Homo sapiens: one gene and its partner. The protein of the gene in region 2 purifies or fractionates together with the protein of the main gene of each other region. This does not show direct contact. Each region holds a gene or a part of one and is shown on either strand. Other genes may lie near its edges.

What was found. The genes of interacting proteins can lie anywhere in the genome.
Region 1: the proteins of ATRNL1 (region 2) and PRKAR2A fractionate together in Homo sapiens (co-fractionation; one large-scale study listed by BioGRID). This does not show direct contact.

What each region holds. Positions count from the first base shown.
Region 1 is NC_000003.12:48,841,375-48,844,874, reverse strand, and holds part of PRKAR2A (cAMP-dependent protein kinase type II-alpha regulatory subunit), read left to right. Parts: intron 1-3,500. UniProt on the Homo sapiens protein: Regulatory subunit of the cAMP-dependent protein kinases involved in cAMP signaling in cells. Type II regulatory chains mediate membrane association by binding to anchoring proteins, including the MAP2 kinase.
Region 2 is NC_000010.11:115,299,365-115,302,864, forward strand, and holds part of ATRNL1 (attractin-like protein 1 isoform 1 precursor), read left to right. Parts: intron 1-669; coding exon 670-883; intron 884-2,490; coding exon 2,491-2,679; intron 2,680-3,500. UniProt on the Homo sapiens protein: May play a role in melanocortin signaling pathways that regulate energy homeostasis.

The sequences.
Region 1 (3,500 bases), on a different chromosome or scaffold from region 2:
TAGGTATATCTCCTAATGCTATCCCTCCCCCCACCCCACAACAGTCCCCAGAGTGTGATGTTCCCCTTCCTGTGTCCATGTGTTCTCATTGTTCAATTCCCATCTGTGAGTGAGAACATGCGGTGTTTGGTTTTTTGTCCTTGCGATAGTTTACTGAGAATGATGGTTTCCAATTTCATCCATGTCCCTACAAAGGACATGAACTCATCATTTTTTATGGCTGCATAGTATTCCATGGTGTATATGTGCCACATTTTCTTAATCCAGTCTATCATTGTTGGACATTTGGGTTGGTTCCAAGTCTTTGCTATTGTGAATAGTGCTGCAATAAACATACGTGTGCATGTGCCTTTATAGCAGCATGATTTATAGTCCTTTGGGTATATACCCAGTAATGGGATGGCTGGGTCAAATGGTATTTCTAGTTCTAGATCCCTGAGGAATCGCCACACTGACTTCCACAATGGTTGAACTAGTTTACAGTCCCACCAACAGTGTAAAAGTGTTCCTATTTCTCCACATCCTCTCCAGCACCTGTTGTTTCCAGACTTTTTAATGATTGCCATTCTAACTGGTGTGAGATGGTATCTCATTGTGGTTTTGATTTGCATTTCTCTGATGGCCAGTGATGATGAGCATTTTTTCATTTGTCTTTTGGCTGCATAAATGTCTTCTTTTGAGAAGTGTCTGTTCATATCCTTTGCCCGCTTTTTGATGGGGTTGTTAGTTTTTTTCTTGTAAATTTGTTTGAGTTCATTGTAGATTCTGGATATTCGCCCTTTGTCAGATGAGTAGGTTGCGAAAATTTTCTCCCATTTTGTAGGTTGCCTGTTCACTCTGATGGTAGTTTCTTTTGCTGTGCAGAAGCTCTTTAGTTTAATTAGATCCCATTTGTCAATTTTGGCTTTTGTTGCCATTGCTTTTGGTGTTTTAGACATGAAGTCCTTGCCCATGCCTATGTCCTGAATGGTAATGCCTAGGTTTTCTTCTAGGGTTTTTATGGTTTTAGGTCTAACGTTTAAGTCTTTAATCCATCTTGAATTAATTTTTGTATAAGGTGTAAGGAAGGGATCCAGTTTCAGCTTTCTCCATATGGCTAGCCAGTTTTCCCAGCACCATTTATTAAATAGGGAATCCTTCCCCCATTGCTTGTTTTTCTCAGGTTTGTCAAAGATCAGATAGTTGTAGATATGCGGAGTTATTTCTGAGGGCTCTGTTCTGTTCCATTGATCTATATCTCTGTTTTGGTACCAGTACCATGCTGTTTTGGTTACTGTAGCCTTGTATTATAGTTTGAAGTCAGGTAGCATGATGCCTCCAGCTTTGTTCTTTTGGCTTAGGATTGACTTGGCGATGCGGGCTCTTTTTTGGTTCCATATGAACTTTAAAGTAGTTTTTTCCAATTTTGTGAAGAAAGTCATTGGTAGCTTGATGGGGATGGCATTGAATCTATAAATTACCTTGGAAGGAAATAGAGACACAAAAAACCCTTCAAAAAATTAATGAATCCAGGAGCTGGTTTTTTGAAAGGATCAACAAAATTGATAGACCACTAGCAAGACTAATAAAGAAAAAAAGAGAAGAATCAAATAGACGCAATAAAAAATGATAAAGGGGATATCACCACCGATCCCACAGAAATACAAACTACCATCAGAGAATACTACAAACACCTCTACGCAAATAAACTAGAAAATCTAGAAGAAATGGATAAATTCCTCGACACACTCTCCCAAGACTAAACTGGGAAGAAGTTGAATCTCTGAATAGACCAATAACAGGATCTGAAATTGTGGCAATAATCAACAGCTTACCAACCAAAAAGAGTCCAGGACCAGATGGATTCACAGCCAAATTCTACCAGAGGTACAAGGAGGAACTGGTACCATTCCTTCTGAAACTATTCCAATCAATGGAAAAAGAGGGAATCCTCCCTAACTCATTTTATGAGGCCAGCATCATCCTGATACCAAAGCCAGGCAGAGACACAACCAAAAAAGAGAGTTTTAGACCAATATCCTTGGTGAACATTGATGCAGAAATCCTCAATAAAATACTGGCAAACTGAATCCAGCAGCACATCAAAAAGCTTATCCACCATGATCAAGTGGGCTTCATCCCTGGGATGCAAGGCTGGTTCAATATACGCAAATCAATAAATGTAATCCAGCATATAAACAGAACCAAAGACAAAAACCACATGATTATCTCAATAGATGCAGAAAAGGCCTTTGACAAAATTCAACAACCCTTCATTCTAAAAACGCTCAATAAATTAGGTATTGATGGGATGTATCTCAAAATAATAAGAGCTATCTGTGACAAACCCACAGCCAATATCATACTGAATGGGCAAAAACTGGAAGCATTCCCTTTGAAACCTGGCACAAGACAGGGATGCCCTTTCTCACCACTCCTATTCAACATAGTGTTGGAAGTTGTGGCCAGGGCAATTAGGCAGGAGAAGGAAATAAAGGCTATTCAGTTAGGAAAAGAGGAAGTCAAATTGTCCCTGTTTGCAGATGACATGATTGTATATCTAGAAAACCCCATTGTCTCAGCCCCAAATCTCCTTAAGCTGATAAGCAACTTCAGCAAAGTCTCAGGATACAAAATCAATGCACAAAAATCACAAGCATTCTTATATACCAATAACAGAAAAACAGAGAGCCAAGTCATGAGTGAACTCCCATTCACAATTGCTTCAAAGAGAATAAAATACCTAGGAATCCAACTTACAAGGGACGTGAAGGACCTCTTCAAGGAGAACTACAAACCACTGCTCAATGAAATAAAAGAGGATACAAACAAATGGAAGAACATTCCATGCTCATGGATAGGAAGAATCAATATAGTGAAAATGGCCATACTGTCCAAGGTAATTTATAATTCAGTGACAAGTTTTTGTATTATATCGTCATTCTTTGTCATCTTTGATACCTTTTTCAAAATTGAGTTGACTTAAAATCTTTGTACCCTATTTTATTGGTATTTAAGTATTTTTGGTGTCTCAGGTGGCTGCGCTACATAATTATAGAAATCACTACAAGGTGGATTTCTATTTACAAATAATAAATGAAAAATACATTGCATACAATGAGATACTTCATACCTGTTAGGATGGCTGGTATTAAAAACAGAAAATAGCCAAGATGTGGAGATGTTGGAACCCTTGTGCATTACTCATGGGAATGTAAAATGGTTCAGCTGCTGTGGAAAACAATTTGGTGGTTCCTCAAAAAGTAGTTAAACATAGAATTATCATAGGTAGAGCAATTTCACTCCTAGGTATATAACCAAAACACCTTTTTTTTTTTTTTTTTTTTTTTTTGAGACAGAGTCTTGTTCTGTCACCCAGGCTGGAGTGTAGTGGCGGGATCTTGGTTCATTGCAACCTCTGCCTTCTGGTTCAAGCAATTCTCCCACCTCAGCCTTCCGAGTAGCTGGGATTACAGGCATGCGCCACCACACTTGGGTAATTTTTTGTATTTTTAGTAGAG
Region 2 (3,500 bases):
TTTGTCAATCTTAGTTAAATTATAGGCACGAGCATCAGATTTTATTACTTTTGTTGTTTTTTGTTAATAAAATTATATGACATAAATTTATCCAAAAATCATATAGAAGTCCAGATTTATTTGTAGACGTCTGAGCTAAGAGAGAGGCAGTTATTCTTCTGTAAGTCTTTTTGCTAGGTCTTGTTATGAAGTCTTCACTCAGACTCTATATATTGTTTGTTGATTTTATTTTCTAGTTTCACAATGCAGATAATGGCAATTTATCTTTAGAGTCTTAATCCTATAACTGATTACATTGATAGTAGTAATAGTAATAGAAGCAGCAGCAGCAATAACAATATGTTAAGTTTTTAAATAATCCTACCTTATCAGATAGATAATTATATCTCCACTTTATAGAAGAGTAAACTGAGGTTCATGAAGGCTAAATAAATTATTCCAATCATGTAGCTAAATATAAAACCTGTGTTTTAAAAACAGTGTTCTATTCTACATCATTCTCCAAAATATGCTATAATTGTTAATTATTCTTAGTACTAAAACTCATTAGAAAGGCAGCTTTATATATTTTCAAATATAATTTTTAATGATAGTGAACTATTTGCTAAGGAATATGCCATATTTTTACATCTAACTTTCTTTGAATGCCCCTTTTCCTGTTGTTTACAGAAAGTATCACCTTGGGTAGGCTTGCGCAAGATCAATATATCCTATTGGGGATGGGAAGACATGTCTCCTTTTACAAACACAACACTACAGTGGCTTCCTGGCGAACCCAATGATTCTGGGTTTTGTGCATATCTGGAAAGGGCTGCAGTGGCAGGCTTAAAAGCTAATCCTTGTACATCTATGGCAAATGGCCTTGTCTGTGAAAAACCTGTTGGTAAGTAGTCCAGTAAATTAGCATTCCTTTAAAAGTATGTTTCCCACCCATCTTCTCATTCCTTCCTTCTAGGGTGTAGTCTTATTCTATGATATTTATGTAAATTTTATTTTTATACACATTCTTCCCCACTTACTATTAGTGATCTCAGCATTAACTTGTGAAAATAACATAATATTATTATTTTATGCAAACTTTGTTGGTTCAAATAGTGAGATTGTGGTTGTAGTTACTTATAATATGACAATAATCTATTCTTAATTCATTAATGTCTTTTACTTTTATCATGATAGTGTTTGGGAAGAAGATTTGCTTTTAAGATTAATGGCTAATTGGGACTCCTTTTACTCTTGTAGACATATTTCAGTTATCAAGTAAAAAGAAACATTTTTGTTACATCTTCTGAAATGGATTTTTGTTAAGTAAGAAAGGAATATTGAATTCTTTTCTTTTAAATCTTATATTTTTATCATGGTAAAATGTACTTAAAATTTACCATTTTAACCATTGTAAATGTATTTTAATGCCAATTCAATGGCATTAAATACTTTGACACTGTTGTGCAAACATCATCACCATTTAGCTCCAGAACTTTTTCATTTTGCAAAACTAAAAATCTGTACCCATTAAACAATAACTCTCCATTTCCTCCACCCCACCCCCTACAGTCCCTAGCAACTACTGTTCTACTTTCTGTCTCTATGAATTTACTACTTCAGGTACCTCATATGGTGAAATCATACAGTATATGTGCTTTGTGACTGGCTTATTCCCTTAGCATAATGTCTTTAGGGTTTAACCAAGTTGTAGGATATATGAGAATTTCCTTCCTTTTTAAGGTTGACCAATATTACATTATATGTAAATACTACATTTTGTTCATCCATTCATTTATCAATGGATACTTGCGTTGCTTCTACCTTTTTGCTATTGTGAGTAATGCTGCTATGAATGTGGGTGTATGAATAACTGTTCAGCTTCTTGCTTTCACTTCTTTGGGGTATATATATATAGCCAGAAGCAGAATTACAAAATAATGTGGCAATTCTGTTTTTCACATTCCCACCAGCAGTGCACAAAGGTTTCAATTTCTCTCCATCCTTGCCAATATTTATTTCCTATTATTTTTAAATAATGGCCATCTTAAAGGCTGTGATAAATATTGTATCTTGTGTAATATTTTATGATAAGCTGTATTTTTATTCTTTGTTTATATCAAAGACATGTTCACTTACAGGACATTTACTTTGTAAGATGTGGAATGCTATGGAAAACGTGGCTGGGAAAAAATTGTGGCTGGGAAAATAAACAGTGCTGGTATACAAACTAGGTCATAGATTACATTACTGCTTATAATACTTAAAATTATACAACTTTATATACTTTGTAAAGAATTACAAATTTCAAAGGAGTTATACATTTTCAAATTTAATAAAAATTTTAAGAAGTATTGATATATCATCTTTGTTTTTATCTACCTCATCATATTATAATGCCACAGTTGGCTTAATTGAAACATGCCCTGAACAGCAAAGCAAAGAAAACCCATACAATTGTGTTAACATGAAGTTAAAAATGAAATTATTGTATTTGTTTATTTATTCCAGTTAGTCCAAATCAAAATGCGAGGCCGTGCAAAAAGCCATGCTCTCTGAGGACATCATGTTCCAACTGTACAAGCAATGGCATGGAGTGTATGTGGTGCAGCAGTACGAAACGATGTGTTGACTCTAATGCCTATATCATCTCTTTTCCATATGGACAATGTCTAGAGTGGCAAACTGCCACCTGCTCCCGTAAGTATTTATCTAGAGTGACTTTTCACTTGACAGCAACGTAAATTTACTTTTCTGTGATGTAAAGAAGAATTAAATATTTGAAGAAGTTTCAAAAAATGAGAAAAAATATTGTTACGGCTACTTTTGAAACCAACTGGTACTGTTAACCTCTGATTTTTATTATATCATCATTTTGCATGCCACTAAGTATCTTACCCTAAATATTAACATATTGCCACATATGTACAGCCTCTTTTCCCTGAACTGTGTGTATGTTGCAGACAGTATAACACTTCATGAGAGTGTTCACCTCAAACATCACAGATTGCTTTGGTGAGCCTTTTTAGTATCTTTTAATCTAGTGCAATTCCCATATCTTTTCCTTATATGACTTTGATATTTTTGAATAACCTATACCAATTGTTTTGGAGGTTTCTCAATTTGGATTTGTCTAATTTTTCCCTCATGATTAGATTCAGGAAAGCATTTTGGGGCAAGAATATTTTATCAATGTTGGTATATCTGCTACAAGTATAGAATGCACAGTCTTGAAATCACATAGAGTTATGTCAGCAGGGCAGTACTGGGCTTGCTATGAGTTATACTTCAGGAGAAAGATTTTGCCCCTTGCTGATCTCTCATGTTTTCTAAGGACTATAGGATAAGGCTGCACCTGAATGAATATTTAATACTGGGTACTATGTGGTGAGAGTGGCCTTGCTTACAAACACAAATGGCGTCAGAATACAGCTGCCAAGGGAATTGCATAATGCTACTGGGAGCACTTGTTAGCCTTGTAGGAACTTAAGACCGTGTGAAACTCTTTCTGCTTGGGAGAA